4 linked regions of the Homo sapiens genome follow. Changing the gene in region 1 together with any one later gene gives a genetic interaction. Each region holds a gene or a part of one and is shown in the gene's direction. Other genes may lie near its edges.

Region 1 (7,510 bases):
ACCACGCCCAGCTAATTTTTGTATTTTTAGTAGAGACGGGGTTTTGCCATGTTGGCCAGGCTGGTCTTGAATTCCTGACCTCAGGTCATCCACCGGCCTCGGTCGCCCAAAGTGCTGGGATTACAGGCGTGAGCCACCGCGCCCGGCCGCCAGTGCCTTTTAATAAAGAACGTTTTGAGAGAGAGACGGTTATTTAATGAAATCTGCTGACATACTTGCTGAGAGTTGTGATAGAACTTGCTTTCATTCCGACTTTAGTTATCCCTTTGCTTCCCATGAAGCTCCAGAGTGCTTCCTGTGCACACAGTGCTTCAGGTTCTTGCCGTTGCCAGAAATAAACAGATTTCTTAGAGTTTCAGTTGGAGCAAACATTGGAATTCTTGTGTTCTGGGCTTTATGTAGTAGAGTAATTCATTTGCTTTTCTAGCCATGCAATATTATTGCCTTAATCAAAATTATTTACAGTATGGTACTTCCCAAAATAACAGACAGTTGTTATCCATATTCAGGAAGTGGGCGCGAGAGGCCACTTTAATTTGATAGACTCTTTAATTTGCCTTTTTACTACTTTTCTTGAGGGGCTTGTTCCCTTGAACCCCAATAGCTGAGTTGTGTGTTACCCTAGATTTTAGGATATGAACAGGATGTATAAATACTCAATGAAGTTGGGATCATCTGGGTTTGAGAGTTTAGCCTGTAGGACAGTTTTACTGACCACAGTCTTCATTTTTTTTTTGAAACAGAGTCTGGCTCTGTCGCCCAGGCTGTGCAATGGCATTGTCTCGCCTCACTGCAATCTCTGCCTCCCGAGTTCAGACGATTCTCCTGCCTCAACCTCCTGAGTAGCTGGGACTATGGGCACGTGCCACCACACCTGGCTAATTTTTGTATTTTTAGTAGAGACGGAGTTTCACTGTGTTGGCCAGGCTGGTCTTGAACTCCTGACCTCGTGATCCGCCCATCTCAGCCTCCCAAAGTGCTGCGAGTATAGGTGTGAGCCACCACACCTGGCCTTGACCACAGCCTGTCAAGGCATGAACATAAGCAACCGTGGTGAGGAAAGAGGTTCTGGTGAGACTCAGCATAATAGTAATTTTGGTAATACCAAGTAGAAATAATTTAGCTCAAAACTGGTTCCCATTATGAACCAAACTTGAAGATCAGTATCCAGCTCTTTTCTCCAAAGTTAACAAAGTGCGGAAGGGAATGAGCACCCCCCCGCTACTGAAAAAAAAATCACTTGGAATGTAAAATTTAATAGAGGAAGAAAGGAAGGAGATTAGAGAGGAAGATAGTTGGATGCCGAAACAGGGTTCAAGACTTACCCTTGAGCAAGGGGCTGAAATTGGCTTGACTGATAGGACGTGTGATCTGTGAGGAGGTTTGAAGTAGTAGTGTTTAACTACATGTAGTTTGGAGATGATCAGGTGATTGTAAACCTCCCACTCCTTTGATTTATTTTTAAGTGCTTGAAAGGAGAGGTGAGAAAGGAGCAGTGATCAATGATAACTGTGCGGTTAACTGACTTTTGGGTATCAGATGGAAAAGAAATACTGTCATTCTACAGCAACAGGTTCTTCCCAAGTATTTAAGAAACACTGTGTTAGTTGGGCCGGGTACAGTGGGTCACGCCTGTAATCCCAGCACTTTGGAAGGCCAAGGCGGGTGGATCACCTGAGGTCAGGAGTTTGAGACCAGCCTGGCCAACATGGTGAAACCCTGCCTCTACTAAAAATACAAAAAATTAGCCGGGCTTGGTGGCACAGGCTTGTAATCCCAGCTACTTGGGAGGCTGTGGCAGGAGAATCGCTTGAACCCGGGAGGTGGAGGCTGCAGTGAGCTGAGATGGGAAAAAAAGAGAAACACTGTGTTACATGACCCATCTTCTTTTTTTGACATTTAGTTCAGAATTTCACATACCATTAAGGTAATTAAAGTTTTATCTTCAGTTCCCTTTTAGACTATGGCGACATACCTGGAGTTCATCCAGCAGAATGAAGAACGGGATGGTGTGCGTTTTAGTTGGAACGTGTGGCCTTCCAGCCGGCTGGAGGCTACAAGAATGGTTGTACCCCTGGCTTGTCTCCTTACTCCTTTGAAAGAACGTCCAGACCTACCTCCTGTACAATATGAACCTGTGCTTTGCAGCAGGCCAACTTGTAAAGCTGTTCTCAACCCACTTTGGTATGGATTCTTTTGAAACTGGTAAAAATGATAAATACAATATATTATGAATTTTATGTGATGCTCATAAAAGTCATTAAATTTGGGCAGGTCATCAAATTTGTGATAAGTAGTAGATGATGAGACTCCTAAACGATTCTTGTGGTGAGTAGTAAGTGGTGAATATTTGTAGAAATCTCCCTGGCCTGATAATTCCAGATAAAATTGGAATCTTACAGGAATGAGGTAGAGGTAGAGGGAGAGGATTTGTAATTCACTTTTTTTTTGGCTGATAATCAGTTTGCTTTTGGCTTAACTGTAGACTTTATTGATTCCTCTTAAAGTAATTTCCCAGAAGAATTCGAAAGCTTAGACCGTCTTCTCATGCTTCCCGGGTACAGTGATGCTATATGGCAAGGAGAAGTAGCAGGCAGAAGAAATTTTAACTGTTAACAATTTGTTAAGTGTAATTTTTTTTTTTTTTGTGCCTGAGATAGTGACCTATTTCTTTTAAATGTGGGCATTATTTGAAATGATTTTTAAACAGGTAGAGAGTGTCATAAAATTTTTATATGAGGGAACATTTTTTACTTCATTCTCATTGCTTTTATTTAATGTGCCCATATGTGAATGCATAGCCACTGGTTATTAATTTTCTAAATGTAGAAAATAAGGGAAAAGTAACTGAAGCATTATCTTGAACCAATTTGAGGAAGTGAAATGTGCTTGCCCAACTTTTCTTAAAATGGGCTAAGTCAGGTTAAAAATCTAGAAGCATTTTCCTGTGTGTGAAATATGCTTTTAATGTTGGAATTTAGTAGTTTCACATAGCCGGACAATAAAGATGTTAGAAAAAAATCATGAAGAGTATGTTAAGATAAAAGGCAAGAGAGAAATAATGTATAATTTATATAAATCATGACATTTAAAAAATTAGGAAATTGGAAAAGAGAAAAAGATTTAGTATTTCTTCACTGTGGCTGTTTGATGGAAATTGTGGTGTACTTAGCCAGAATTCTAACTGCGGTGAACGTTTTGCATACTCATACTTATGCATACACATAGAAACACTTACTTGTGTGATTTACTGAACTTGAAATTTACAAATGAACGCTTTCTACCTTAAAAATAAAAATTTTATTTTAAAAATAAAAGTGGTACCTACTTATAATATTTATCTTTCTCACAGTCAGGTTGATTATCGAGCAAAACTTTGGGCCTGTAATTTCTGTTTTCAAAGAAATCAGGTATGTGAATTATTTTTAAAAAATGTTATATGTTTTATTTTAGTTGTATTATGAAAAAAATTAAGTTAGGTTGAATTTGTGTTTACACTGGCAGTGAGCAGTTTCTGCTGAACTCAGGGTGATAACTTTTGTTAAGCACAATATTGAATTTGAACATTTGTGGTTTATTCTGTTGAGTGGTTTTCTTGAGTCCTTGTCATTTGCTTGGGGCTGGGGAGGGGGTGTTCATTGAATTCCCTTTTCTTACACATTTTCTGTAGGCAGTGAATCTGTGACCCAAAGAAAGCACCTGTTTTTCATATTTCTCTTGACTTCAGTATATTCTGATTGGATAGTGTATATTACTGAATTTTCATTTTCTGATCTTTCTAACTTTTAGAGTCCAGGTATCAGTGTTGAGCTTCTTTTGATTTAAAAATTTTAAAAGTACCAAACTAGAAGGAGCTCACAAATCACAAGAGAGACTTCTCTATAAAAGTAACTGTGCGGCCAGGCCTAGTGGCTCATGCCTGTAATCCCAGCATTTTGGGAGGCCGAGGTGGGTGGATCATGAGGTCAAGAAATCGAGACCATTCTGGCCAACATGGTGAAACCCCATCTCTACTAAAAATACAAAAATTAGGCCGGGCGCGGTGACTTACGCCTATAATCTCAGCACTTTGGGAGGCTGAGGCGGGCAGATCATGAGGTCAAGAGATCAAGACCATCCTGGCCAACATGGTGAAATCCCCTCTCTACTAAAAATACAAAAATTAGCCAGGAGTGGTGGCAGCCACCTGTAGTCTTAGCTACTCAGGAGGCTGAGGCAGGTGAATCGCTTGAACCCGGGAGGCGGAGGTTGCAGTGAGCCGAGATTGAGCCATTGCACTCCAGCCTGGCAACAGAGCAAGACTCCGTCTCAAAATAAAATAAAAAATTAGCTGGACATGGTGGTGCGCACTTGTAGTCCCAGCTACTCAGGAGGCTGAAGCAGGAGAATCGCTTGAACCCGGGAGGTGGAGGTTGCAGTGAGCTGAGATTGCGCCACTGCACTTCAGCCTGGCAACACAGCAAGAGTGTCAAAAAAAAAAAAAAAGTAACTGTGCCTGTAGTGGAAATGTTCTAAAAGTGGATTGTGGTAATTATTGCACAACTGTACGTTTTCTAAAAATCATTGACTTGTATAATTAAAATGAGTGAATTTTATGTTGCGTAAACTATACCTCAATAAAGTTGTTAGAAAAAATTTGTGTCCAGCATAGTGTACACTGTTCTAACAGATCTTAAGCTCTTCACATGCATTCGTTCATATATTTGATCATAATTACAATTACTCATTCTCAGATACAGCATATAAGTCTAGTGATGAAGAGGACAGTGTACAATTGATGACTGACCATAGGTTCGGAAACTATAAGCAGATGTCATTTAAAATATATCTTCATGAGAGATTCAGAAGTATATAGAAATCTTAAAAGCATTTCTGCTCCCTATTACATTTAGGATTAATGTCTTTGTTTAATATAATTTATTATAGTAATTCTAAGGCAGGGTAGCATAGTGGCTAAAGAGCCAGAGATCTGTAGCCAGACTGCCTGGGTTTGGCTCTCAGATCTACCACTTATTTCCTGTGTAACTTTGGGTAGGTCACTTAACTGCCTGTGCCTCAACTTCCTTGTCTTTAAAATTAGGATGATAGTATAGTATACCTATAGTCACTTCATGAGATTATTGTGAGAATTAAACTGAGTTAATGAGTATAAAGGACTTAGAACAGTGCTTGACACATGGTAAGTGCCATATAAGTATTTGGTATTATTATGCTTACCTAAGATTGTCACCTGCCAATTTATAAGTATGATCTGCAAGTCTATGTGTCCTAAGTGGAAATAATCTTTTGTAACCTTCCTAGCTGGACAGTGTGGGGGTTTTCTAGCTCTAAATGAATGTAGAGCTGGAAGACGGAGGGATCAGGGTGATCTCCGTCTCCTTTGCTCCCTTCTGTGCAGCTGGCTGACTGCGTGGGTGAACAGGGCCTCTCCAGGTTGCTGGGAGGTGGCTGGTGTGTCTGTAGTCATAGATCGAGCTTATCCCTGCTGGGAGCTGCAGTCAGTGGGCAGTCATGGCCAGGATGGGGCTAGAGTCTTCTGCTGGCTCTGACTGAGATTCTTGCTGGGGCTCGCAAGCTCAGTTGTACCCTTCTCTCCCAACCAGAGGCCCCTAAAGCTGCCTGTCAGCTCCTCAGCAGCACTTGCATTTGGTCACTCTGAGGTCACTGGCCTGGAGTGATCATCTGCTCACTTTGGGGAGATGCACCTCAACTTGTATTTTTAATGTAAAGCTAAAGACTATTTGGATTATAAGCCAACCCACAAGCTGTGAATTTAAAACATTTGCAGAGAGTTTTAAAAACAAAAGAAAATGCCTGTGGCATTATGTTGACTGGAAAAAACAAGTTCCACATTGTATATATGGGATGTTCTCAACTGTGCTTAAGTCTGGAAGGAAATCTGCCAGGAGGTTGACAGTAGCTGCTTCTAGGTGATAGGATTTTGGGGGGCTTTTCCTCCTTTGTTTGCTTCTATTTTCCTGGACTTGCCAATTTTTCTACATTCCGTATGTATTACTTTATTGATAATAGCCAAAATAATAAACCTAAATAAAGTCTTTGGCTTTATTTAGACTATTAACTATTGATGAGATAGGTGAAATCTCAGCCTTTAATTTGCAGGGCAAAACTTAAGAAATGGTTTTCATTTGTGTGTTTTTGGCTAGGCATGGTGGCTTATGCCTGTAATCCCAGCACTTTGGGAGACTGAGGGGAGAAAATCACTTGAAACCAGGAGTTCAAGACCAGCCTGGGCAACATAAAGTGTGCTTTTAAACATTTAGAAGTTACAATAGCTTAAAACTGCTCTAAAAAATATTTTTTAAGAGGACAGAAATGATATAAATATAAGGCAGGGTTAGAAGTTTTAAATGCTGATTTTTATGTTTTTTAACGTGTCCTGTATTTTGTGCTTTCAGAATAAATACATGGTCATTACCATTTTTTTTCTTCTTTTTTGAGACAGAGTCTTGCTCTGTTTCCCAGGCTGGAGTGCAGTGGCGCAATCATGGCTCACTGCAGCCTTAACCTCCTGGGTTCAAGTGATCCTCCCACCTCAGCCTTCTGAGTAGCTGGGACTACAGGTGTGAGCCACCACGCCCAACTAATGTTTTTACTTCTTGTATACAGACAGGGTCTCACAGTGTTGCCCAAGCTAGTCTGGAGCTCCTGAGCTCAAGTGTTCCTCTCGTCTTGGCATCATTATCATTTTTACACATGGAAAATAAAAAGTGTAATATAGTTATGCCAACCCTAATAAAACTGTTTCCTTCTTTTCAGTTTCCTCCAGCTTATGGAGGCATATCTGAGGTGAATCAACCTGCCGAATTGATGCCCCAGTTTTCTACAATTGAGTACGTGATACAGGTAATTTCTTTGTTGTGCATTTAATGAGCAATGTTAAATACTGAATTTCTCTTGAAATCCTTTGTCTTCCATGTCTCTTACCTGGGCAGGGGACTTAAAGCTGTGAGGGCAGCAGGATCCTAACCTTTAGGTTTGATGTGTGTGCATCTACTGGCATTGTTTTCAAGTCCTGACATTATAGAAGGCTACTAAAAAGGTAGAACTGATTAAATTCCAAACCTGTTCTCTGTAGCCTTCTTCATCTCAGTTGATGGTACTCCATCATCTAGTTGTTTAGCTTCAGAACCTTAGACTTATCCTTGACCTCTCTCTTTCATGTTCCATATCTAATTCACTGGAAAATCCCATTGGCTCTATATTTGAAATTTATCCAGAATCCACCCACTTCCCCCTCCCTACTACCAGCTGCCCTGGGCCAGCCACTCCTTCTTACTTGAATCTTCTAATTGTTCTCCCTGATGTTACCATTGCCTATTTATACATTATTCTTCACCCAGCAGCCACAGTAATTCTTTTTTTTTTTTTTTTTACAAATTGTATTTATTCATTTATTCAGTGAGGAAAGTTTGTTTTGCTTTCAAATATTGGCCTTTGTGAATAATGCTTCAATGAATATAGCTGTTCAAATAACTGTTTACCCATATGT
Region 2 (7,510 bases), on another chromosome or scaffold:
TTTTAACCTTCTATATAAAACCAACTTTAGGAAGCAATAATTTAAAAATAGCCCCTAAAGCAGTGTTTCCTAGGCTGTTTAATAGGCATTTCATGGAAAAAAAAAAAAAAAAAGGCTTCCTCTGGAATGTATTTTAGAACTGCTGCCCTAAGATCCTAGATTAAATAAATCTTTTCTTTCCAAAGGAGACATTGGAATCTGTAATCAGGAGGTAGTGGAATCCTCTTCTGAGATTAGAGAGCTGAGATTAGAGGGCCACTCGTGTGTGAGATAAGGTATGAATTAGGAGAATTTTCAAGGTTTCCTGCAGTCATTTCTTTTTTTTGGAAGGATTTACTTTAATTGTGATTGAGAGTCTCTGGAGTTCTGATTTATGAGTATTATTACTTTAGAACAATGAGACAGTTTTAACTTGTAAATAGCATAGAATATATGTAGCACTTTAAAAAAATTCTAAATGTTTTGCGTTATAAGCAGAATTTGAATAACAGGATTTTAAAAAGTGACATCTAATGTAGAAGCCATTAACACTCCTGCTTCAAACGGCTCCCCAGCTCCATGCTCCAGACTGAGCAGCAGTCAAATACATTATGAAGACATATACATCAGTCAGATTTAAGAGTCACAGCTTTGGGATGGAATTACCAGCCAAGAGACCAGTTAGGCTTTTTCAGCACTTCCAGTACCTTTTGTAAAGAGCTGTAAAGATTCACTGATACAGTGTATTAAAGTGACTGGAACAGACCAGTGCCTTATTAAAGACAGTATTACTCTTCCATTATTCTCATTAGTATTTATTTCATTTTCATTTTTGTTGAAATATAAAATATCTACAAACCTTCTAACCTGTAGCTGGATTATGTTTATCCTTATGTGGAGGCAAGAATACATTTTTTTCTTCTTGTAGAAATTATTTCTCTTAGGTCAGTCAGCATCTTCCCAGTAGAGTTATTTACTGCTAAAAACAGTATTGCTGTTTCATGTAATTTTTCCTCATTTACTGCTTACAGGATGACGCTGTCAGTATAGAAAGTGGTACAAACACTGAACGCCCTGATACACCTACAAACACGCCAAATGCACCTGGAAGGAAAAGTTGGGGAAAGGGAAAATGGAAGTCAAAGAAATGCAAATATTCTTTCAAATGTGTAAATAGTCTCAAGGTATGTGCAAAAAAAGATCCTTTGGGCTGAATGCTAGGCTTCAGAAATTATTTCTCTGTGGCACGCATTTCGTACTCAGGATACTCTGTCAAGTTGTAAATATTTTAAAGTTACAATGTTTTCTGAAGGGTTTTTTTTTTTGTAGTTCAGACTGCGTATCTATTTTAGTCCATCCCATGTTTAGTTTTTTGGTTTTGTTTTTTGTTGTTTTAATTTAAATATGTGACAGTGTTGCAGGATGTTTTTGCTTTATTGTTTGCATTCAAATTATAAGATTTGGGTAACTATTACTCTTTATATTTTAGTAAAACTTAAAAAACATAAGCCACTTCTGGCATCAGTTTTTAAAAAGAACTGAATGTAACCCATTAACTTTGACTAAGTATAAATTGAAACAGATGTTTTACTTTGTACAGTTTCTGTCCTTTGTTTTATTTATAACTGTTTTCAAAGAAAAAGGTGTAAAAAATTTTTAAACTTTTTAATATTAAATATTTAGGGAAAAGGGGGTTTTGGTTATTTAAATTAATCTGTCCCCAATAGTATTTTTATTTACTTTATAAAAGGGGTTACTGGTGTTTAAGATATTTTCTTTTATATATGTCCAGTTTGTTTTTTAAATGTGAGGCTATTTTTTTCTATACTGAGGAAAAATGTGTATTATCTCATACATATGTAAGTTAAAACCTTTTCTAAATATCCAAATATATTTTTTATAAGTAAAGTTTTGGGAAAGCATAAGAAGCTATGACTATGACATTTTTCTGTCTGTGTAGCAAAAATTCGATGCTCAGTGTGTCAGATTTTGCTCCTGTAAAAGGAGAGAAATTAATCTCAGCATATTTTTTAAAAGTCAATTATAGTTTCATGTGCATATTTATTTACATTAACGTACTACTTTTAGGTACTGTACCTGGAAGATGTTTTTAGCTGCCTTTTATACTTAAGGCAGTATTTCAAAATCCTAAAGCTGTGGCTTTTCAAATGATGAGAAAACGAAAGACGTACTTTAAAAGTGAAAACAGTGCCTTAAACTGCATCTGAAAGTCAGTGTTAAATGCCAGAAGTTGGCCAGTAAAATCCTAAAGCTGAAAAATAACTTTGTGAACAAAAGTGCATAATTGTTCTTTGTACATCTCCTATAGCCTCCTGGTAACTGTGCAGTTACAGTTTATTTCTTCCCCTAGTCCCCAGTGTTCAGATATTCTCATTCTGACTAACAGAAAACAGTGATTTGAATGGAGTCTGCTATGCTTCACTTTACAAGGGAAAAATTTAGCCTTATAAAATTTAGTGAATGCCAGAGAAGCTATTAAGGCCATCTGTTAATTTCCTGTTTCAGAAAAATAAATTGTGTCCTTTTGTATCCACCAAAATTATCCAGTTTATTGTGATTCAGAATATGATTGGCTTATTAAGAAAAAGGCAAATATTATAAGTGTTTTCGTAGGTAAGCGGTTATTACCTAACTTGTGATTTCAGCCTTTGGTTGTGATAAAACTTTATCATACACAATATTTTAAAATGTGAAAACTAGACTAGTAGACATCTTTTAATTTTAGTGTCAAAAGTTAGCTTATGTATGATACACAAAATAATGTATTGCATTTTGGAAAAAAGAAGGGGATAGGTTAGTTTACTGTCATTTTCTGGTTTGTAAGATACATTAATCTTTTCTTATTTCATGATTATTTTATAGGAAGATCATAACCAACCATTGTTTGGAGTTCAGTTTAACTGGCACAGTAAAGAAGGAGATCCATTAGTGTTTGCAACTGTAGGAAGCAACAGAGTGAGTGTTAAGGGGTCTATTTAGTATTTGGCTTGATTTCCAGATCTGGTGTTAATGTAATATTGAAATAGAATAATTTCAAAGTGCATTTTGTGAAGCTGGTTTAGCAATATGATTCTTTCATGTAAGAGTGAAGGTTTCTAGAAATTAATTAAAACTAGTATGCATGGCTGAAAATACATCTATATTTAATATATTACCCCTAATTATTTATGAAACAGGTTTTATACTTGTATTTGTCTTCATAAATACTTGGTTGAAAGAATTGGCGTCCTTTTTTTTTTTTTTTAATTGGCGTTCTTTTTAAAGTGATTTTGGTATTTATCATTCAAATAGCGTAAGAACTGGCTGTGATTTTTTTAAAATTAAGGTAATGAATGGCTCTATAAATGAAGCATAAATCCAGTGGATTTAAATAAGTTATTGAGATGTTTTAATTACTTGCAGTAAACATTTGAGTTTGCTGGGTTTTTTTGTTTTGAGACAGGTAGTGTTTGGTGGTGATTGTTGTTGTTGTTGTTGTTGTTTGTTTTTGAGAGAGAGAGAGTCTTACTCCTTCCTCCAGGATGGAGTGCAGTGGTTAATCAAGGCTTACTGCAGCCTCAACTTCTGGGGCTCAGGTGATCCTCCCATGTCAGCCTTCTGAGTAGCTACAGGCATGCACTACCATCCCTGGCTAATTTTTTTTGTAGGGATAGGTTTTCACCGTGTTGCCCATGCTGGTCTTGAACTCTTGGGCTCAAGCAATCTACCTGCCTTGGCCTCCCAAAGAGCTGGGGTTGCAGTCATGAGCCACCATGTCCAGCCTTTTAAGGAAATTTTATAATGACATGTAAGGCTCTAGGCCTTTTACTATTTGACAAGGTCAATTCATTGAAACTCTAAATATTTTTAAGTTACCACTGAAGTTGATAACATGAAATAATAGCTTTTTTTCTTCTGTTTTTGGTGTTTAGTCAAATGTAGGTTTTAAGATAATGTAGTCTGCTTATAGTTGTTTAGTTCCTAGATTCTTTGAAAACAACAATTCAGAGGAAAAATTTTGCGGTTTTAAGAAAAGGTTGAGGTTATTTTTTTCCTAGTTGGGAATGTAGTGCATTAATTAAATTTGAGTCCACTTTTAAGACACCACTGTAAACCTAAGTTAATATTTAGCTTTGATAGTATTATAATTGGTATAGTTTGTGCTCCAGTGTGCTGATTGCAGTGTTTTAGGTTTTCTAACAAAAAGAATCCCTATTTTTATTTAAAGTGACATAAAGGGGTGTCATATAGTTTATTGAATTATAAAAAGTTCTGCTGTTAGAATTTCTTTAAAAGGAAGAAAGAAAACAAAAACAATTACCACATAAGACATAACCTAGTTAGCAGCCATATAAAGAATTTTTTTTGAACATTAACATAGAGGAGATAATGAATTAATAGGTTGTGATGATACACAGGATCTTCAGAGGTCTTCAGTACTATTATAAAATAATAATAGGTTTTTGCTAATGTGACTGACTATAAGCTATAAGAAAAATGGGGCCGGGCACAGTGGCTCACGCCTGTAATCCCAGCATTTTGGGAGGCTGAGGCAGGTGGATCACCTGAACTCAGGAGTTCGAGACCAGCCTGACCAACGTGGTGAAACCCTGTCTCTACTAAAAACACAAAAATTAGCTGGGCATGATAGCGAGTGCCTGTAATCTCAGCTACACGGGAGGCTGAGGCAGGAGGATCACTGGAATCCGGGAGGCAGAGGTTGCAGTGAGCCAAGATCATGCCATTGCACTCCAGTCTGGACGACAAGAGTGAAACTCTGTCTCAAAAAAAAAAAAAAAAAAAAAAAAAAAGAAAATGGAAAGAAATTTATAAAAGTTTAGTATTACAAAATTGTGTATGGTGTATGTATAGTTTTAATTTTAGAGTATGCAACAAATGAAAAAGGCTATCATACATGTGAAAGTTAATGTTTGATTATCTGTACCCATGAGAAAATAATTCATTAAGCAAATTGTAGACTTTTAAATATGTAACTAATATGTAAATACTCCAAAACTATCCAAAGACTTATTTTTATTTGAATTTTTATTTTTTATGGTTTTTTTTTTTTTTTGAGACTGAGTCTCTCTCTGTTGCCCAGGCTGGAGTGCAGTGGTGCAATCTTGGCTCACTGCAACTTCTGCCTCCTGGGTTCTAGCGATTCTCCTGTCTCAGCCTCCTGAGTAGCTGGGACTACAGGCACATGCCACCACACCCACCTAATTTTTGTATTTTTAGTAGAGACGGGGTTCCACCGTGTTAGCCAGGATGGTCTTGATCTCCTGACCTCGTGATCCACCCGCCTCGGCCTCCCAAAGTGCTGGGATTAAAGACATGAGCCACTGTGTCCGGACTTATTTTATTTTATTTTTTTTTGAGACAGAGTTTCGCTTTTGTTGCCAGGCTGGAGTGCAATGGTGCAATCTCGGCTCACTGCAACCTCCGCCTCCCGGGTTCAAGTGATTCACCAGCCTCAGCCTCCTGAGTAGCTGGGATTACGGGCATGTGCCACCACGCTCAGCTAATTTTTGTATTTTTGGTAGAGACAGGGTTTCACCATATTGGCCAGGATGGTCTTGATCTCTTGACCTCATGATCCGCATGCCTTGGCCTCCCAAAATGCTGGGATTACAGGCGTGAGCCACCGTGCCCGGCCTAATATTTATTTTTTAATAGAGATGGGGTTTTGCTATGTTGCCTAGGCAATTGAATGGATGAAATATAAGTTTAAAAGATTGGAAATCGAAACGACTATTACTGCAATATTTAATATGCTCTGTGTATTATGTAAAACATTCAGCTTTATAATGGCTTCTTTAAGCTCACAGGAGGTATTTTAAGGCAGTAGTTTCTGTAGTATATTTAAGATAGGATTGCGATTAAAATATGTTTAAAAGTTGGAGAGAGTATGTTTTCTATACTTGAGATGAAATTTACTGTATTTTTATTTTCATTAGGTTACCTTGTATGAATGTCATTCACAAGGAGAAATCCGGTTGTTGCAATCTTACGTGGATGCTGATGTATCCTTTCCTGGGTTTTTAATATCTTTAGTCAAAGGAATTTATTTTCAATAAGTGCACCAAAACTTTTATAAATTAATCATTTCCCTAAAGTTATTGTTCTTTCTTAACCGATTTCTTCACTATCACCCAAGAGAATCCTGTATCTAGTTTTCCTGACCCTTAGAAATCCATTGTGGTATGTGTCAACTCAGCTAGGCAAAAAGAAAAAGAAAAGAATCCATTGTGGGATGGATGTGCTGGTTGGGTGCAGATGTCTATAGAGATAGGAGCATTAGAAATCTAGTAATAGAAAATATTAGCAAAGACTGATTAAAACCTCCTTTTTCTTTGACCTTGCCTAGAATATATCATTTCATTGTAGTTATAATGATGAACTTGGCTTGTGACTGGTAGTCATTCTAAGTATTTGATCAACGAAGCCTAGGAAGAAAAAAAAAGTTTAGGAAAAATAAAATATATAAAAATAAAATAAAATAGGAAATAAAAATTGCAAAACAGGTTCATAAAGAAACAGAAAAATTTGAAAAGCCCGAGTTAGAGCGGTAAAAGCTAAGTAATAAGATATTTCTTCCAGATCCATTTGAAAAACCTAGCAAACAAGACAAGGCAAGGACATTCAGTCTTCTCTAAAAGATATTGAAATGTGACCTGTTGTTGTATTGAGACTGTCTCACAAAGAAAAAAGTGGAAAACTGAATTGTTCTTTTTTAGATATTTATAGAGGTATGGGGATAGAGCAGAGGTTAAACTACAGCGTGCAGGTTGGTCACCTGTTTTTGTAAAGTTTTGTTTTGAACACAACCATGCCCATTCATTTGTATATTTTCTGCAGTTATTTTGGTACTGCAACTACAGAGTTGAGTAGTTGTACAAGCAGCTAAAGAGTAAACAAAATTGAGTGGAGAGACTGTAATTTTGTTTGATCATTTGTTATGGATTTTAGACCTCAAATCACCATTGTATATATTTGGTTGTATAAGGAAAATTGAGAACTTTGGTGTCAAAAACTTTAGCAGTTCTTTATAAGTTTCTATTATAATTATTGACATGTTTCTTTTTCAAAAACATTATGTTTCTTAACTGTGGAATTTCTTAGGCTGATGAAAACTTTTACACTTGTGCATGGACCTATGATAGCAATACGAGCCATCCTCTGCTGGCTGTAGCTGGATCTAGAGGCATAATTAGGATAATAAATCCTATAACAATGCAGTGTATAAAGGTGGGTTTTTCTGGTTAAATTGTAGATCTGCTTCTTTTGAATCCACAACTGTAAAAACTTGTAATGTTAAATTTAAAACTAATGGTATGAATGTAACATTTCTCATTTGATTTGTACTTTTCTTACTGCTCTCTTTGGATGAGTCTTTTGAGACGTTTGTCACATTTGGGTAATGTAAATTAAGGAATAAGTGGGAAAATGTTAATATTTGTAGTGCTTTCTTTTTAAATCATTTCCCTCTTTCACCCTTGTCATGGTTTACTTTGAGAGGCTCTAAATGAAC
Region 3 (7,944 bases), on another chromosome or scaffold:
TACTTTTAGTAGAGACGGGGTTTCACCATGTTAGCCAGGATGGTCTCGATCTCCTGACCTCGTGATCCGCCCACCTTGGCCTCCCAAACTGCTGGGATTCCAGGAGTGAGCCACCATGCTCGGCCCTTTTTTTTCTAAGAGGGAGTCTTGCTCTGTTGCCCAGGTTGGTGTGCAGTGGCGCGATCTCGGCTCACTGCAACCTCTACTTCCTGCCTTCAAGCATTTCTCCGGCCTTAGCTTCCCGAGTAGCTGGGATTACAGGCGCCCACCACCACGCCCGGCTAATTTTCTTTTGTATTTTTAGTAGAGACGGGGTTTCACTATATATGTTGGCTAGGCTGGTCTCGATCTCCTGACCTAAATTGATCCTCGGCCTCCCAAAGTGTTGGGATTATAGGCGTGCGCCACCTCACCCGGCCTTGTTCCTTGTATTTATTTAATTCTGTGATGATGAATAAACCAAACGATCAGGCTGTCAATGTGCTGTGAGATTAAGGAGAAAAGCAGTAGGCAGCACGTACCCGGTTTTACAAAACCCTGCGGGTCACCTGTTTACTACCGTCAGCCTAGACCGGTTTTTCCACCTCCTTCTGCTGACATTGGAGGACGGGTATCATTCTTTTTGGGGGGTCGTCGTGTGCACTGCAGGGTGCTGAGCGGCATGTCTGGTCTGGACCCACTCGATGCCAGCAGCACCCCGCACTCAAGTTGTGACAACCAAAACCGTGTTTTCAGACATTGCCAAGTTATCCCCTAGGGGGCAAAGTCACCCAGAAGAAGAACCACTGATGTATGCAATTAACAGATGCAACTAAAACAGTATTTGGCTATTAATAGTAATAGCACTTGGGGGGGGGGTCAATAATATCTTTTCATAGTCATTGAATTTAGTTAATTGTTTTGATTTGATTCCAGTTCAGCCCCGAACTGGGTGACCTTGGCCAAGTGACTCAGCCTCTCGGACCCTCGGGATCCTCTTCTGTGAAATGCGGACAGGGGAAGGAGCCTCGCGCGGGACGCTCACGTGCCGTTCCCGCTCCGTCCGCCCGCCTGGGGTGCGGGCGGGTACACTCCCACTCCCCGCAGCGCCCCACGCGGCTCCACCGCTTCCGAGTGAAGAGTTAAAGAGGAAGCGGCAGCCGCGCCTGCGCCCACAGTGCCTAGCCCGGAGCGCCGGTCTCGCAAGCGCGCACGCGCACGCAAGCCCGCACGCGCGCGCACGCACGCACGTGGCTCGGCCCGCGCGCATCCTCCCCTTGCAGGGGCGGGGCCAGCGCAGGGACTCCATTTCCCAGCGTGCCCCGCGGCAACGCCAGGAGCCTCCGAGGAGAAAGGAAAACGCGCGACGGCCCCGACTGCGGCGGCGCGAAATCCGCCTCAGGGACGCACGCACAGACGGAGTACCCCTGGACCCGCCCCCGGAGACCCCGTGCGGGAGCGCGCCCGGGCGTGCGCAGGGGCGGCGGCGCGGCGGCGCGGGGACGCGCGGTGACCGTTGGCGCCGAGGGGAGGAGGCAGCCGCCGCCGCCGCCGCCGCCGCCGCCGCCGCCGCCGCCGCCGTTGCGCAGATCCGGGCCGCGGCTGTGGGGAGGGCGACGGAGCGGGTGACCTTCCGGAGGCGGGAGCGAGCGAGGAGGCCCGGGAGCGCCGAGCGTCGCCGCCGCCGCCGCCATGAACAACTCGGGCGCCGACGAGATCGGGTGAGGACGAGCGGCGCGGGCCTGCGTCTCCGCCCCGAGCCCGGCCCGCCGCTCCCCGCCGCCCGGCCTCAGACGCCGCCCCCCGGGGCCGCCCCGTCAAGGTCACGCCGGCCGGGGGCGGACTCGGGACCCGGACTCGCCGCGGCTTCGCGCCGGGGGCCCTGGACGGGTGCCCGGGGTCTGGGGGGGTCCTGGCGCCCCCGCCGCCGCTTCCCGGCTTCCCGTCCTGGGGGATCCTGAAGGAGAGCCTGAGGGGTCCGGGGGGCCCCGCCGCCGCCTCCAGACTTCCTGGTCGGGGGAACCCCGAACGGCAACCTGGGGGGGTGTCCTGGGGCGCCCGTGCCGCCGCTTCCCGACTGCGCGTCCTGAGGGACCCCGAATGGGAGCCAGAGGGGTTCAGGGGCCCCCGCCGCCGCTTCCTGGTTGTGGCGGCCCCGAACGGGAACTTGGGGGGGTCTGGAGCGTCCCCGTTGCCGCCTGTAGGGCTTCCTGGCCTGGGGGACCCCGAATGAGAACCTGAGGGAGTCTGCGGGGAGTCCAGGGCGCCGTCGCCGCCGCCTCCCGGCTTCCTGGCCAGGGGGACCCCAAACTGTGGCGTGGGGGGTGGTCCGGGGCGCCCCCAGCGCGCGCCCAAACTTGGCGGGCGGCGCACGTGGCGAGCCGAGGCGAGGGTTCCGGTTCTGCCACCGCCCAACCTATCCCACTCGGGGCTCCGGGCTCCCCGCTCCCATCCCACCCCCCCAAAGTGGTAAGGTCGGGAGGGGTTCGCAAACCCAGGGCCCAGGGGGCTCGGGTCAGCCGGGGCCTGCTGTGTTTACGTTGCCTCGGCGCCTCCCCGCCGGGGGTGGGCTTGAGCTGCGGAAGGGAGAGTCAGCGCTTCCGAGGCGGCGACGGGCCCGCGGATCTTTGCTGCGCCGAGGCGTCCCCTCCTATAGGAGCCTGACCTGCTCCGGACCCCGCGGGGCCGGGAAACCTCATTTCGCTGTGCCCCAGGGCTCGGCGCCATTCTTTGGTAGGAGCGGCTCCTGCCGCAGCGACGTCGTTTTAGAGTTGCATTCTTCCGGCAAAACAGTCTGGGTTGGGTTTCCTAGTGGTCTGGTGTAAATTTCTCGGTGCCCTTAGCTTTGAGCAGCGCCCTGTGTTCTCAGCGCTGGGCTTGGCTAGTGCGGGAGCGGTTGCTGCTAGAGGGTTGCCTTGGCAGGCGCCTCTCGCACCAGCTACAGGTCACACTTGTGGATGGGAAATGCCTTTTGTGGGCTCTCCCCCTCCCCAGACAAAACAAAAGAGCACCTTCCGTTGGAGAACCAGGATGAAAGCACTTAGCCCCTGCCTAGCCCGTGCTGTGAGTCCTCTCCAGGCACTTTGACTTGGCAGGGTCCGTGTGCCTGTGTGAGGGACATTGCAGGGATGGGCCTGAGCAGGGAGTCCACCGGCCATGGGGGATGGAGCCATCGACTTTGGGGTGAGGCAGGGAAAGGGCTCCCAGATGGGGTACCTGGATTAGGTCCATTCAAGCCGCGGGTGAACGTGGGCCCGCTCCACCCAAGCCGTGGCTGTGAGGAGGCTGGAGAGAGGTGAGGGCTCCTGTCCCCTCCCTGCATGGACACCCTTGGGAAGTGGGGCAGCTGGGGTCCCAGCCTGGGTCTGGAGGGGTCCCACCCACAGCACAAATAGGCTCGCAGGCCACCCGGACGCCACGGGCTGCGTGGAGGAGAACTGGAGTGCATGGACCCTGCTCTCCTCCCCGGCTGCCAGGAGTGTCCACTGCTTTCTAAGTCAGACTCCTTGGGCAAGAAGTGTTGCCACAGCCGCCCGTCGCATGGGAGACCGGCTTCCATTCTATGCGGAGTCCACGGTCTGCTCTGATCTTGCTGTGTGGAGTTGTTGTGTGCGTGAAATGCTTGTGACCCTGCGAAGCGCCCTCCTGGCAAGTCCCCTGCAGGTGCGGTGGGTGCCATGCAGGAGGGTGCTGAGCTTGGATGGAAGCAGGCCCTCTCTGCGGCAGATGGCGGCTCTCAGGACGCCATGGGTCTGCGGTGTCCCTTACCCACTGGGGGGGCTCGGCAGCCTGAGGAGCTCCCTCTTCCTGATGCAGAGCCCTCACTGCTCACTGCCATGGAGGAGGCAGGAGATCCCGCCGGACCCCGCTTGGAGGGCTGGGCCTGGAGCATGCATGGGTGCGGGGTCAACGCCTCAGGAGACTTGGAGCTTGGGAGCCCCCTGTTCTGGGACACTTGTGGCCGTCCAGCTGCTGCCCTGGGAATCCACACCTGGAAGGTGGGTTAGGGAGCCATCCTTGGGGGAAGCTCTGCTTTTGAGTCTGAGAAGTCGTCCCAAGTTTTGAGGGTCCCTGTGCTGGCTTAGAAGTCCATGTAAAGCTTGATGGGGGATGAAAGTCAGCTGAGGCCTGCCGGTGATAACGGATGCCTTACACACACCGACTTCCAGTCAGCTTGAGGGGGGCTTCATGCAGGAGGAAGCGCATACGTGTGGTGGGGTGTGGGGAGTCCCTCTCTGGATCCTGGTGGGTTTGGCACGCGGACCCTACATGGTGGATGTGATGGACAGTGTCCTCCTTTGGGAGCGGGGCCTGTCCTGGTCCTCTTGTGAAGGGTGGGGGACAGGCACTGACCTGTCAGGAGGGTTAGAGGGTTGGCACCAGCAGGTGGCCTGGAGCGCTCAGAGCACGCGCGATCAGGAAGGCCCGAGTCTCCAGTGTGCCCTCCCTGGCCTTGTGAAGTCATCTTAAAGTCTGGCTTGAGCGCCTCTGACTTGGATTCTGGGAAGCTGACACAGCGCGGCCGGGGTCGCCACATCCTGTTGAGTAGCCGCTGGGTGCTAGGCGCCTGGGTGGTAGACCAGGTGTCAGGGATAGGGCCCATGCCTGGCCTACTGGGGAGAGGACAGAGGCTCAGAGGGGTCACCTCGAGCGCCCAGGCCATTGTGTTCTGCTGGCTTCCAAGGCAGCACACGGTCATGGAACTGGAGAGAGAGGTTTATGGAAGATTTTATCTGGTACACTGGGGAATGGTAAGACAGGGACACCTGGAAATATTGTAGGAAAGTCACAGAGGGAGGAAGGACTCAGCGGAGAGAGGAGAAAGCCGCCTCTGGGCAGCTTCGAGGATACCCAGGACTGTGGCCGGGGGCCATGCAGCTCAGAGCCAGGCCCATGGCAGGTCTCTGGGTTTATTGGGTGGCTGTGGAAGGAGACATCCTGAGTGGGGCTCCTGGCTGGGCCCCTAGAGGCCGTGACTACTTGTACCTGTGCAGAGTGAGCACAAGGCACCTGGCAAGATTGTTGGTCAGGCCAGAGAGGGCCGTGATCTGGGGGAGGCTGTTGCAGTGCGGGGAGTGATAGGGAACCTCATGGGGCCGTGCCGGCCTTTCTGGGGCTCTCTTGGTGCATTTGGAGTTATTCCGAGGCAGGTCTCCTGGGCTCTGTCAGCACTCTGGCCTGGATCACTCTGGGGCACCGTGGGCACTGCAGGGTGCTGGGCAGCACCTTTGGCCTCCATTCACTCCGGGTCAGGAGTACCCCCAGTCGTGACAACCACAAATGTTCCCAGACATCACCCAGTGTCCTGCTGGGGGGAGAGCCACTGTCTGGGAGCATCTGTGCTTTTGGCCTGGTTGCCCCTGCGCTGGGGGCCGCTGCTCCTTGTGGTTTATGGCTTGTCCTGTGTCGGCTCCTTTGATTCCTGTGAATGGGCCTTGAGGGTGGATGTGCTCCTGACTGGCTCGCCTTGGCTCCAATGGTCTGGAGCAGGCCGGTGTCTAGAAAGGCAGCAGCATGGACCCTGGCGCTTGCCCTTCACACAGCAGCTCCCCAGTGGCCCAGAGCTAGCAGCAGCGCGCAGCGTGCCCAGCTGTGCTTGTAGCCTTGGCTCTAACCCTTGGCTTTGCCAGAGAGACTGAGGCACAGAGGAGTTGAGGGATGGGCCCGGGGTCACCCCAGGGGGTGGAAGATCCGGAGCTGGGAGTCCACACTCCTCCACTGCCCGCCCCGCACAGAGGGCGCTCCTGGTCAGGCGGCTATGTTCATGGTGCGACCCGTCAATCTGAGGTTGTGCTGTCTTCTGTGAACTGAGGCCTTTTCCCATCCAGGCCTGGTCCCCGTGACACCATGTCATGATGTCAGAATCCCTGAGAGCTGTGACAGGGCTTTTGGCAGAGGCCAGTCATTCGACAGATGCTTATAGGCTGAGCTTCCAGCTTGGCTCCAGGCGTTGCCAAGGAGAACACTGGTCCGCCTGGGAGGGCGGGGCTGGCAGGGAGAGGATGAGGGTGACCACAGTTAGCACCCAGGATGTGGGCATTCAGGGGCTCCTTCAGCACACAGCAGCGCGTTCCAGTTCACGGACCGCTCCTGTGTTCTGTGGACCCCACACCCTGCAGGCGTGGGCTGGAGGGGGGGCATCTGACCCTGCTGGGGAGAGGGAGTCCAGGCTATGGAGGGGCGGGCTGGGCTCACTGGCCTGAGGCAGTGGGTGAAGTGGTCCTGGTTTCCCACCTGGTCTTAGGGGCAGGAAAGTCCCTAGAGGCTCTTCCTGATGCTCTGGAAGAAGAGAAGGGTTCCCCACACATCAGCCGCCACTGGGCCTGGACTTCTGCCTCTTGAGATTGTGCACGGAGCTGAGTGTGACTGGCGGAGCCCAGAGCCAGGTGGGGTCTGTGGGGAGGCAGGCTCCTCCTGGCTTGGTCCCCCGGCCCAGCAGGAAGGGAAAGGTCGCCTGCCAACTGCCCCCATTGAGGCTGCTGGCCCCGAATGGCCGGGCTGGCCGCCGGTTTTTGAAGCCCACTCTGGTGCTGCCAGGAGGTCAGGGCTCTTTGTGGTCAGCCTAGGCCAGAGGAAGCCTCTGCAGATGGACTTTACGCATAAATACCGCACAGGCACCCGAATGGCACGCAGCAAGCGAGGTTGCCATCCAAAACGGCTTTTGCTTTAACAGGCAGAAGAGGGTGGCTGCGCCGGCCACCGTGGATTGAGCACCTGCCAGGTGTCGAGCTGCAGGCCCTGGGTGCCAGGCTTGCAGATCCTGGGAGATGTTCATCATGACCTTTGATGGGCAGACTGCACGCTGGACTCCAGGTTGCAAGGGAAGAAGTGGAGCTCGTCCCACGCCTCCCCCACTAATGAGAACACCCCTTTTGGGTTTGTGGGGTGTGAGGTCTGTAGGAGCCACGACTTCCAGTGTCGGAGATGCCGTCAGCTGGGTGATGACTCTCCCACCCAGCGGGCCCCTCAGAGGCAGGGTGCAGGAGCCACATTGCTCACCGACCCCTTCATCTGCGTAGGCCAGTGTTGCCTTGCCCCGTTAACGTCCTCAGTCCACACGCCGCCAGCCAAGGTGCAGGCTGAGCAAGCCTGGAGCTGAGGACAAGCGGACCGCCAGCCCCGTAGCAAGCCCACGAGAGCCAGCAGCTCCTCCTTTTGGCCTCTGCCCGCGCCCGGCTTCCTGGACTCCGACGTTTACTTGTGTGAGAGTTGGTTCTGCTGCCTGGGCAGTTGATGGACAGTGTCTGGGAGGTGCCTGCCCAGGGCTCCGCATGTTTCTGATGTGCCGGCTTCTCACTCACGACCTGGTGAGGTTGGCAGCCAGGAGCTTTCTTATTTTATTGATTAAAACATCCTGAGATTCAGAAGTAGGGACTTTGTGCCAGGGCCCTGGAGGCAGTCCCTGCCACTGAAGAGATGACCCTGCTTTCCGGGACTTCCCGGAGGCTTCTGTCTGTAGACCAGGGAGAAGGTGTTCGCCGGTGGCTCCTGAGTGGTAGTAAAAGACACATGGACACAGGAAGCTTTAGCGTTAGAAGCTGCTCTCAAATATCTCAACAGAAACACACAGTGTGGCCGCGCGCGGTGCCTCACGCCTGTCATCCTAGCACTTTGGGAGGCCGAGGCGGGCGGGTCACCTGCGGTGGGGAGCTCCAGACACAGCTATGTGAAACGAAAGCTATCTGTTGCTGTCTCAGATTCCATAAGGACTGAGACTTGTTTCAAAAGAAACTGAAATTCTGTCTTGTTCTCAGTAATGAAAGTCTTTTATACCATAATTGTATATATAACTTCTGACTTACAGGAAAATTACAAAAATTCCCATATCCTCTTGGCCCTGCCAGACTCACCATTGGCTGACATTTTACCCTTTGGCACGTGGTGCCTCTTGCCCCACCCCCAGTGAACTGTGTGTGTGTGTGTGTGTGTGTGTGTGTGTGTGTGTGTGTGTTTAGATGGACCCTC
Region 4 (7,510 bases), on another chromosome or scaffold:
AGAAAAAAGATTACCTAATATAGTGGAAAGCACACTGCTCAAAGTCAGGACACCTGGGCTCTACACCTAGTTTTTCTAACTTGGCTAACTGACTTGGACTGATTACCCTCCCTAGGCCTCAGTTTCTTCATCAATAAAATGAACAAAGGATACAACTAGACAGTCTCTAAATTCCTTTTCGGCTTTCTAGAAATTCCCCTGTCTTCGAGGGACTTACAGTCTAGAAACATTAACAAAATTAGAATAGAGAACAACATTAGTTATGGTACCAATGGAATATATGTATGAGCTGAAGAGACTTATCAGTAGAAAGAAATTAATCATGGAAGTCTTGGCAGAAGTGAATTTTAGAGCTAGTTCTTAAAAGAAGTGGCAAACAGATTTTTAAAAAGGTGGAAAATTGACGCTAATAGGTTTAAAACAAAAGGCTGAAGAATCAAGAAGAGGGCTCATGCTCCTCTAATGAAAGTAGCAACCCAGAGGTAGATGTCTCTCAAAGACAAAGGGCTTGTGAAAAGGCTCTTCCTAGGTGCTTCTTGGAGTTAGAGGAGAAGTCCTTTGGAGTGTTTGTTTGTTTATTTGTTTGTTTGTTTTTGAGACAGAGTCTCGCCCTGTCGTTCAGGCTAGAGTGCAGTTGCGCGATCTCAGCTTACTGCAACCTCCTCCTTCCCAGTTCAAGTGATTCTCCTGCCTCAGCCTCCTGAGTAGCTGGAATTACAGGCACCCGCCATCATGCCCAGCTAATTTTTGTATTTTTGTAGAGACAGGGTTTCACCACGTTGGCCAGGCTGGTCTTAAACTCCTGACCTCAGGTGATCTGCCTGCCTTGGCCTCCCAAAGTGCTGGGATTACAGGGGTGAGCCACCGCGCCTGGCCACCTTCTAGAGTTTTATGTTAACATGTCAAACTGCAGTAGTCTGTCTGAGAAGGATTGCTGGGCCCTCCTTCAGCATTTGGGACTTTGTTTGATATTTCTGTAGTACTTAATCCACATTGAAGAAGAAGGATTTTTTAAACTCTGAATTTATCGATCCTCTGTCTGAGAGAAATGAAGCCACTGTGGTAGTAACTGCCAATGCCTCACTCAGGAATCAATTGTTCATGCAATCAACCGTGACCTTAGGTGCTCTTAGGTCAAGAGAAAACAACACTTTGTTTTTCAGAATAAAACACAGCACAACTTCAGCATATGCAGGTTAAGATAATAACAGAATTTTTTCCATCAAATTGACAGATTTTGTGGCCAAGGAAGTCCTTGAAAAAGTTTACTGCTAGAATTTACTAGTTGGGCAACACAGCAAAGGAAACCAATGTTTTAGTAATGAGTCTTACATGGTTTTAAAAACAGAGACAAGCTGCCTTTTGTTAGCTTTTGCTTGCTTGCCTGCTTGCTTTTTTCTTGCTTTGTTTGTTTGTTTGTTTGTTTTTTGTTTTTTGTTTTTTAATAAAGACAATGTCTCCCTATGTTGCCCAGGCTGATCTTGAACTCCTGGGCTCAAGGGATCCTCCATCCTCAGCCTCCCAAGGTGCTGGCATTACAGGTATGTGCCACCACACCTGGCCTCTTTCTTTCTTTCTTGTTTTGTTTTTTTCGAGACAGAGTCTCTCTCTGTCACCAAGGCTGGAGTGCAGTGGTGCAATCATAGCTCACTGCAGTCTCGAACTCCTGGGTTCAAGGGATCTGCCCACCTCAGCCTTCTAGGTAGCTAGGACTACAGGCACGTGCCACCATGCTTGGATAATTTTTGTATTTTTTGTAGAGATGAGGTCTTGCTATGTTGCCCAGGCTGGTCTCAAATTCCTGGCCTCAAGTGATCCTCCCACCTTGGCCTCCCAAAGTGCTGGCATTACACATGACAGCCACTGCACACCGCCTGCCTTTTTTTTAAATTCAAAATAAAGACAATGACTGCTAGGAGAAAAAAAATGACCCTCTCCCCTCCCAGGTGCAGAGTGAAAGGAGAAAGCTAAGCTTCTCTGAACGAAAGACTTCTAGGTCCTCTTGGGCTTGGCAAGTTGAGAAGAAAAGTAGTGTGGCTTCATAGAAAAGGCTTGCTTCTATGAATGACATCCAGTTTATTATGCAATTAAATTAACTGCAGAAGGCCTACTAGGGCCTGGGTCATTTTCCAGTGGAGTACTCTGCTTCTTATTACTGTTTTGCTGCCAAAGGAAGTACACTCTGTCTTGACCCAATCACGACTGCTTCTGGGCTGCACACAGACATGGGGATACCCACATATATCGCCTTAACTGTTGTAGACATCTTTCAGCTGATCCTGCATGGAAACGGACATGCCTGTGATAAATATAAATTACAGAGTCTCTAGAGATTGCCCCAGTTTAGGTCTGAATTCCAAGGTGTTCTTGGCATAACTAGAACCTCTCTGTAGATGGACTACAGGCATTTAGGCCACAAACTTACATCTAGCCAACATTTACCTATTATAATCACAATATTTGCTTAAACTTCCCATCTGCAAATATATGTACAGATTCATACATGCCATTTATTCATTGAACAAGCATTGATTAGGCACCTACTACATGTCAAATGTATGTTTATCATCACCAGTAAGCAGAGATATAGAAATTGAAGCAAGATATATTGTTTCCCCTACCAAGTTTGAAAAAGATTCTTTATTTCAAAATATCCAGGTGGTAGAAGGATTACAGTGAAATTAATACAACCCCTTTTGAAAACCTTGGAAGTGTTAAGAATGGGAAAAAATGTTCATACCAGTTGGGCCAGTAACAATATTCTTGGCAATCTATTCTAAGGAAATAAACCAATTCTACCTGCAAGAAATTTATATCTTAGGAGTAAGACAGCAAATAATTGCATTTGAAAGCTAAAAAAGGATGATTTTCAAAGAATATTCTACAAAAGAAGAGTAACGAAGGACTAATACTATTAGATATTAAGCATCCAAAACTACAGTAATGAAAACACTGGTACAAAAATTAGACAGATAGGTTATAGTACACCCCCCACCCCAACAAAGAGACCAATTATATAGAATTTAATCTATTACAAAGGATGCATTGCAAGTGAATGGGAGTTGAAAGGTCTGTTGAGTAAATGAATGGTATTGTGACAGCTTGTACCATTATACCCTCATCTACTGTAATAAACTAAAATGAGTGACAGCTAGATTGAAAAGTTAAATATTTAAAAAAGCAAATTTTAAACACTAGAGTGAATGGATATTTATCAAGCTTCTAAAGGGGAAGAATTTTCTAAGCTTAGAAAGTAATTTTTTAAAATCACAAAGGAAAAGATCAAACCCGACTGTACAAAATTTTAAAACCAAAATAACTTTTAAAAGGTTTTTTGGCTATTTTCAAAATCTAAACACAGACTGAAAAAGCCTATGTATCATAAATATGACAAAGTGTAATAGGCTTGTATTATCTAACCCACTCCTACAATATAATGTATAAGAAGAAATCTGCACAAAGAACACGAATAGACAATTTACAAAGGAGTTTAAGGACAACTGGAAAACATTGGAAAATGTTCATCACTACTAATCAAAGAAATGTAAATTAAAACCATTAGGTAAGCCTCTTTTTTTTGAGACAGAATCTCGGCTCTGTCATCCAGGCTGGAGTGCAATGGTGTGATCTCGGCTCACTGCATCCTCTGCCTCCCGGGTTCAAGCGATTCTCCTGCCTCAGCCTCTTGAGTAGCTGGGATTACAGGCGCGTGCCACCATGCCCGGCTAATTTTTTTATTTTTAGTAGAGACGGGGTTTCACCGTGTTGGTCAGGCTGGTCTCGAACTCCTGACCTCATGATCTGCCTGCCTCGGCCTCCCAAGGTGCTGGGATTACAGGCATGAGCCACCACTTTTTAAGCCTAAATTTAACAGAATTGAAAAAGATGGTACTCAGTTTCCTAGTGAGTGTGGTTTGGAAGAAAGCATTTTGGTAGCCAATGTGTATTAATGCCCTTTGATCAGGTAATCTTACTTCTGGGAATGTGGCCTAATTTTTTTTTTAAATATGGGAAACAAACTATTTTCATGAAGGTATTTATCAGTGTTATTTATAAAATTTTAAAAACTAAAATAACATGAATGCCTAGCAATAAAGGAATGGTGAATCTACTCCTTAGAATATTATCCTATTGTTTTACTGTTTTTCTTCTGTGCAAAAGCTTTTTGTTTTTATTTATTTATTTATTATTTACTTATGAGACAGGGTCTTGCTCTGTCGCCCAGGCTGGAGTGCAGTTGCACGGTCTTGGCTCACTGCAACCTCTGCTCCCCAAAGGTCAAGCAATCCTCCCACATCAGCCTCCTGAGTAGCTGGGACTACAGGCACATACCACCACACCTGGCTTTTTTTGTAGAGATGGGGTCTTGCCATGTTGTCCAGGCTGGTCTCTAACTCCTGGGCTCAAGCAATCAGCCCACTTTGCCCTCCCAAAGTGCTGGGATTACAGTTGTGTGCCACCATGCCCAGCCTTATGCTATTATTTTAAATAATGATTATAAGGATTATAGGGAACTTCAGATAAATACTTTATGTGTGTCAATAAAAAAGCAGGTCTTGGCTGGGTGCAGTGGCTCATGCCTGTAATCCAAGCACTTTAGGAGGCCGAGGCAGGTGGATCACCTGAGGTCAGGAGTTCAAGACCAGCCTGGCCAACATGGTGAAACCTTGCCTCTACTAAAAATACAAAAATTAGCCGGGTATGGTGGCGGGCACCTGTAATCCCAGCTACTCGGGAGGCTGAGGCAGGAGAATCGCTTGAACCCAGGAGGCAGAGGTTGCGGAGAGCCGAGATCGTGCCACTGCACACCAGCCTGGGTGACAGAGTGAGACTGTGTCTCAGAAAAAAAAAAAAAAAGAAAAAAAATAGGTCTTAAAAATGTATGCACATTGTAATCACAGCTTTGTAAAACATATGAAGAAAAAAAGACTGGTGGGAATGATAACAGTGGTTATCTTAGAATAACAATAATATAGTGGCAGAATTATTTTTTCTCCCAAATATTATTTTTTATTTTTTAATTTAATTTTCTTTTTACAACTTTATATATATATTTTTTTATTTCAATAGGCTTTTGGAGAACAGGTGGCGTTTGGTTACATGAGTAAGTTATTTAGTAGTGATTTCTGAGCTTTTGGTGCACCCATCACCCAAGCAGTGTACACTGTACCCATTGTGTAGTCTTTTATCCCTTATCACCCCTCATCCTTTCCCCCGAGTCCCCAAAGTCTAATGTGTTGTTCTTATGCCTTTGTGTCCTTATAGCTCATCTTCCACATGAATGAGAACATACGACGTTTGGTTTTCCATTCCTGAGTTACTTCACTTAGAATAATAGTCTCCAATTCCATCCATGTTGCTATGAATGCCATTATCTCATTCCTTTTTATGGCTGAGTAGTATTCCATGGTGTATATATAAAACATTTTCTTTATCCACTTGTTGATTGATGGGCATTTGGGCTGGTTCCATATTTTTGCATTTGCAAATTGTGCTGCTATAAACATGCGTGTGCAAGTATCTTTTTCGTATAATGACTTCTTTTTTTCTGGGTGGATACCTAGTAGTGGGATTGCTAAATCAAATGGTAGATCTACTTTTAGTTCTTTAAGGAGTCTCCACACTGTTTTCCATAGTGATTGTACTAGTTTACATTCCCACCAGCAGTGTAAAAGTGTTCCCTTTTCACCACATCCATAACAACATCTATTATTTTTTGATTTTTTTATTATGGCCATTCTTGCAGGAGTGAGATAGTATCACATTGTGGTTTTGATTTGCATTTTCCTGATCGCTAGTGATGTTGAGCATTTTTTCATATGTTTGTTGGCCATTTGTATATCTTCTTTTGAGAATTGTCTATTCATGTCCTTAGCTCACTTTTTAGTGGGATTATTTGCTTTTTTCTTGCTGATTTGTTTGAGTTCTTTGTAATTCTGGATATTGGTCCTCTGTCAGATGTATAGATTGTGAAGATTTTCTCCCACTCTGTGGGTTGTTAACTCTGCTGATTATTTCTTTTGCTGTGCAGAAGCATTTTAGCTTAATTATGTTTCATCTATTTATCTTTATTTTTGTTGTATTTGTTTTTGGGTCTTTGGTCATGAATTCTTTGCCTAAGCCAATGTCTAGAAGGGTTTTTCCAATGTTATCTTCTAGAATTTTTATAGTTTCAGGTCTTAGATTTAAGTCTTTGATCCATCTCGAGTTGATTTTTTGATAAGGTGAGAGATGGGGATCCAGTTACATTCTTCTACATGTGGCTTGCCAATTATCCCAGCACCATTTGTTGAATAGGGTGTCCTTTCCCCACTTTATGTTTTTGTTTGCTTTGTCAAAGATGAGTTGGCTATAAGCATTTGGCTTTATTTCCAGCTTCTCTATTCTGTTCCATTGGTCTATGTGCTATTTTTATACCAGTATCGTGCTGTTTTGGTGACTATGGCCTTATAGTTTGTAGTTGGGTAATGTGATGCCTCCAGATTTGTTCTTTTTGCTTAGTCTTAGTTTTGGCTTAGCTTTTGGTTCCATATAAATTTTAGGATTGTCTTTTCTATTTCTGTGAAGAATGATGGTGGTATTTTGATGGGAATTGCACTGAATTTGTAGATTGCTTTCGGCAGTATGGTCATTTTCACAATATTGATTCTACCCATCCATGAGCATGGAATGTGTTTTCATTTGTGTTGTCTCTGATTTCTTTCAGCAGTGTTTTGTAGTTTTCCTTGTAAAAGTCTTTCATGTCCTTGATTAGGTATATTCTTTTTTTTTTATTTTTATTAGTAAACTACATTCAATCATATTTTAATCATATTTTTAAAAGATAATACATCATGAAAAAGTAGAATTTATACCAGGAATATAAGTATACTGTAACATTCAAAAATCAATAAATGCAATTCACCACATAAGTGTATTAAAAAACAAACCATATGGTTGTCCCAATAGACACAGAAAAGGCATTTGAAAAAGTTCACCTTCGGGCCATGATAAATATAGTCAGCAAACTAGGAATAGAAGGGAACTTCCTCAAATTGATGAGGGCCATCTACAAAGAACCTATAGATAACATCATTCATAATGGCGAAATACTGAATACTTTCCCACTAAGATTGGAAACAAGGTAAAGGTGTCCATTGTTACCATTTCTTTTTTTTTTTTTTTTTTTTTTTTTAGTATTTATTGATCATTCTTTGGTGTTTCTCGGAGAGGGGGATTTGGCAGGGTCATAGGACAATAGTGGAGGGAAGGTCAGCAGATAAACAAGTGAACAAGGGTCTCTGGTTTTCCTAGGCAGAGGACCCTGCGGCCTTCCACAGTGTTTGTGTCCCTGGGTACTTGAGATTAGGGAGTGGTGATGACTCTTAATGAGCATGCTGCCTTCAAGCATCTGTTTAACAAAGCACATCTTGCAACGCCCTTAATCCATTTAACCCTGAGTGGACACAGCACATGTTTCAGAGAGCACGGGGTTGGGGGTAAGGTTATAGATTAACAGCATCCCAAGGCA

What was found.
Region 2: changes in SEC23B (region 1) and EED together harm fitness less than expected from each alone (positive genetic interaction), as found in Homo sapiens cells (one large-scale study listed by BioGRID).
Region 3: changes in SEC23B (region 1) and DAZAP1 together harm fitness more than expected from each alone (negative genetic interaction), as found in Homo sapiens cells (one large-scale study listed by BioGRID).
Region 4: changes in SEC23B (region 1) and HDAC8 together harm fitness less than expected from each alone (positive genetic interaction), as found in Homo sapiens cells (one large-scale study listed by BioGRID).

The regions. Positions count from the first base shown.
Region 1 is NC_000020.11:18,508,873-18,516,382, forward strand, and holds part of SEC23B (protein transport protein Sec23B), read left to right. Parts: intron 1-1,949; 5' UTR 1,950-1,963; coding exon 1,964-2,184; intron 2,185-3,352; coding exon 3,353-3,410; intron 3,411-6,777; coding exon 6,778-6,864; intron 6,865-7,510. UniProt on the Homo sapiens protein: Component of the coat protein complex II (COPII) which promotes the formation of transport vesicles from the endoplasmic reticulum (ER).
Region 2 is NC_000011.10:86,249,286-86,256,795, forward strand, and holds part of EED (polycomb protein EED), read left to right. Parts: intron 1-163; exon of another isoform or gene 164-275; intron 276-1,010; coding exon 1,011-1,163; intron 1,164-2,862; coding exon 2,863-2,955; intron 2,956-5,936; coding exon 5,937-6,002; intron 6,003-7,101; coding exon 7,102-7,227; intron 7,228-7,510. UniProt on the Homo sapiens protein: Polycomb group (PcG) protein. Component of the PRC2/EED-EZH2 complex, which methylates 'Lys-9' and 'Lys-27' of histone H3, leading to transcriptional repression of the affected target gene.
Region 3 is NC_000019.10:1,406,103-1,414,046, forward strand, and holds the start of DAZAP1 (DAZ-associated protein 1), read left to right. Parts: upstream 1-1,483; 5' UTR 1,484-1,671; coding exon 1,672-1,700; intron 1,701-1,782; exon of another isoform or gene 1,783-3,519; coding exon of another isoform or gene 3,520-3,977; intron 3,978-7,944. UniProt on the Homo sapiens protein: RNA-binding protein, which may be required during spermatogenesis.
Region 4 is NC_000023.11:72,560,230-72,567,739, reverse strand, and holds part of HDAC8 (histone deacetylase 8), read left to right. Parts: exon of another isoform or gene 1-158; intron 159-7,510. UniProt on the Homo sapiens protein: Histone deacetylase that catalyzes the deacetylation of lysine residues on the N-terminal part of the core histones (H2A, H2B, H3 and H4).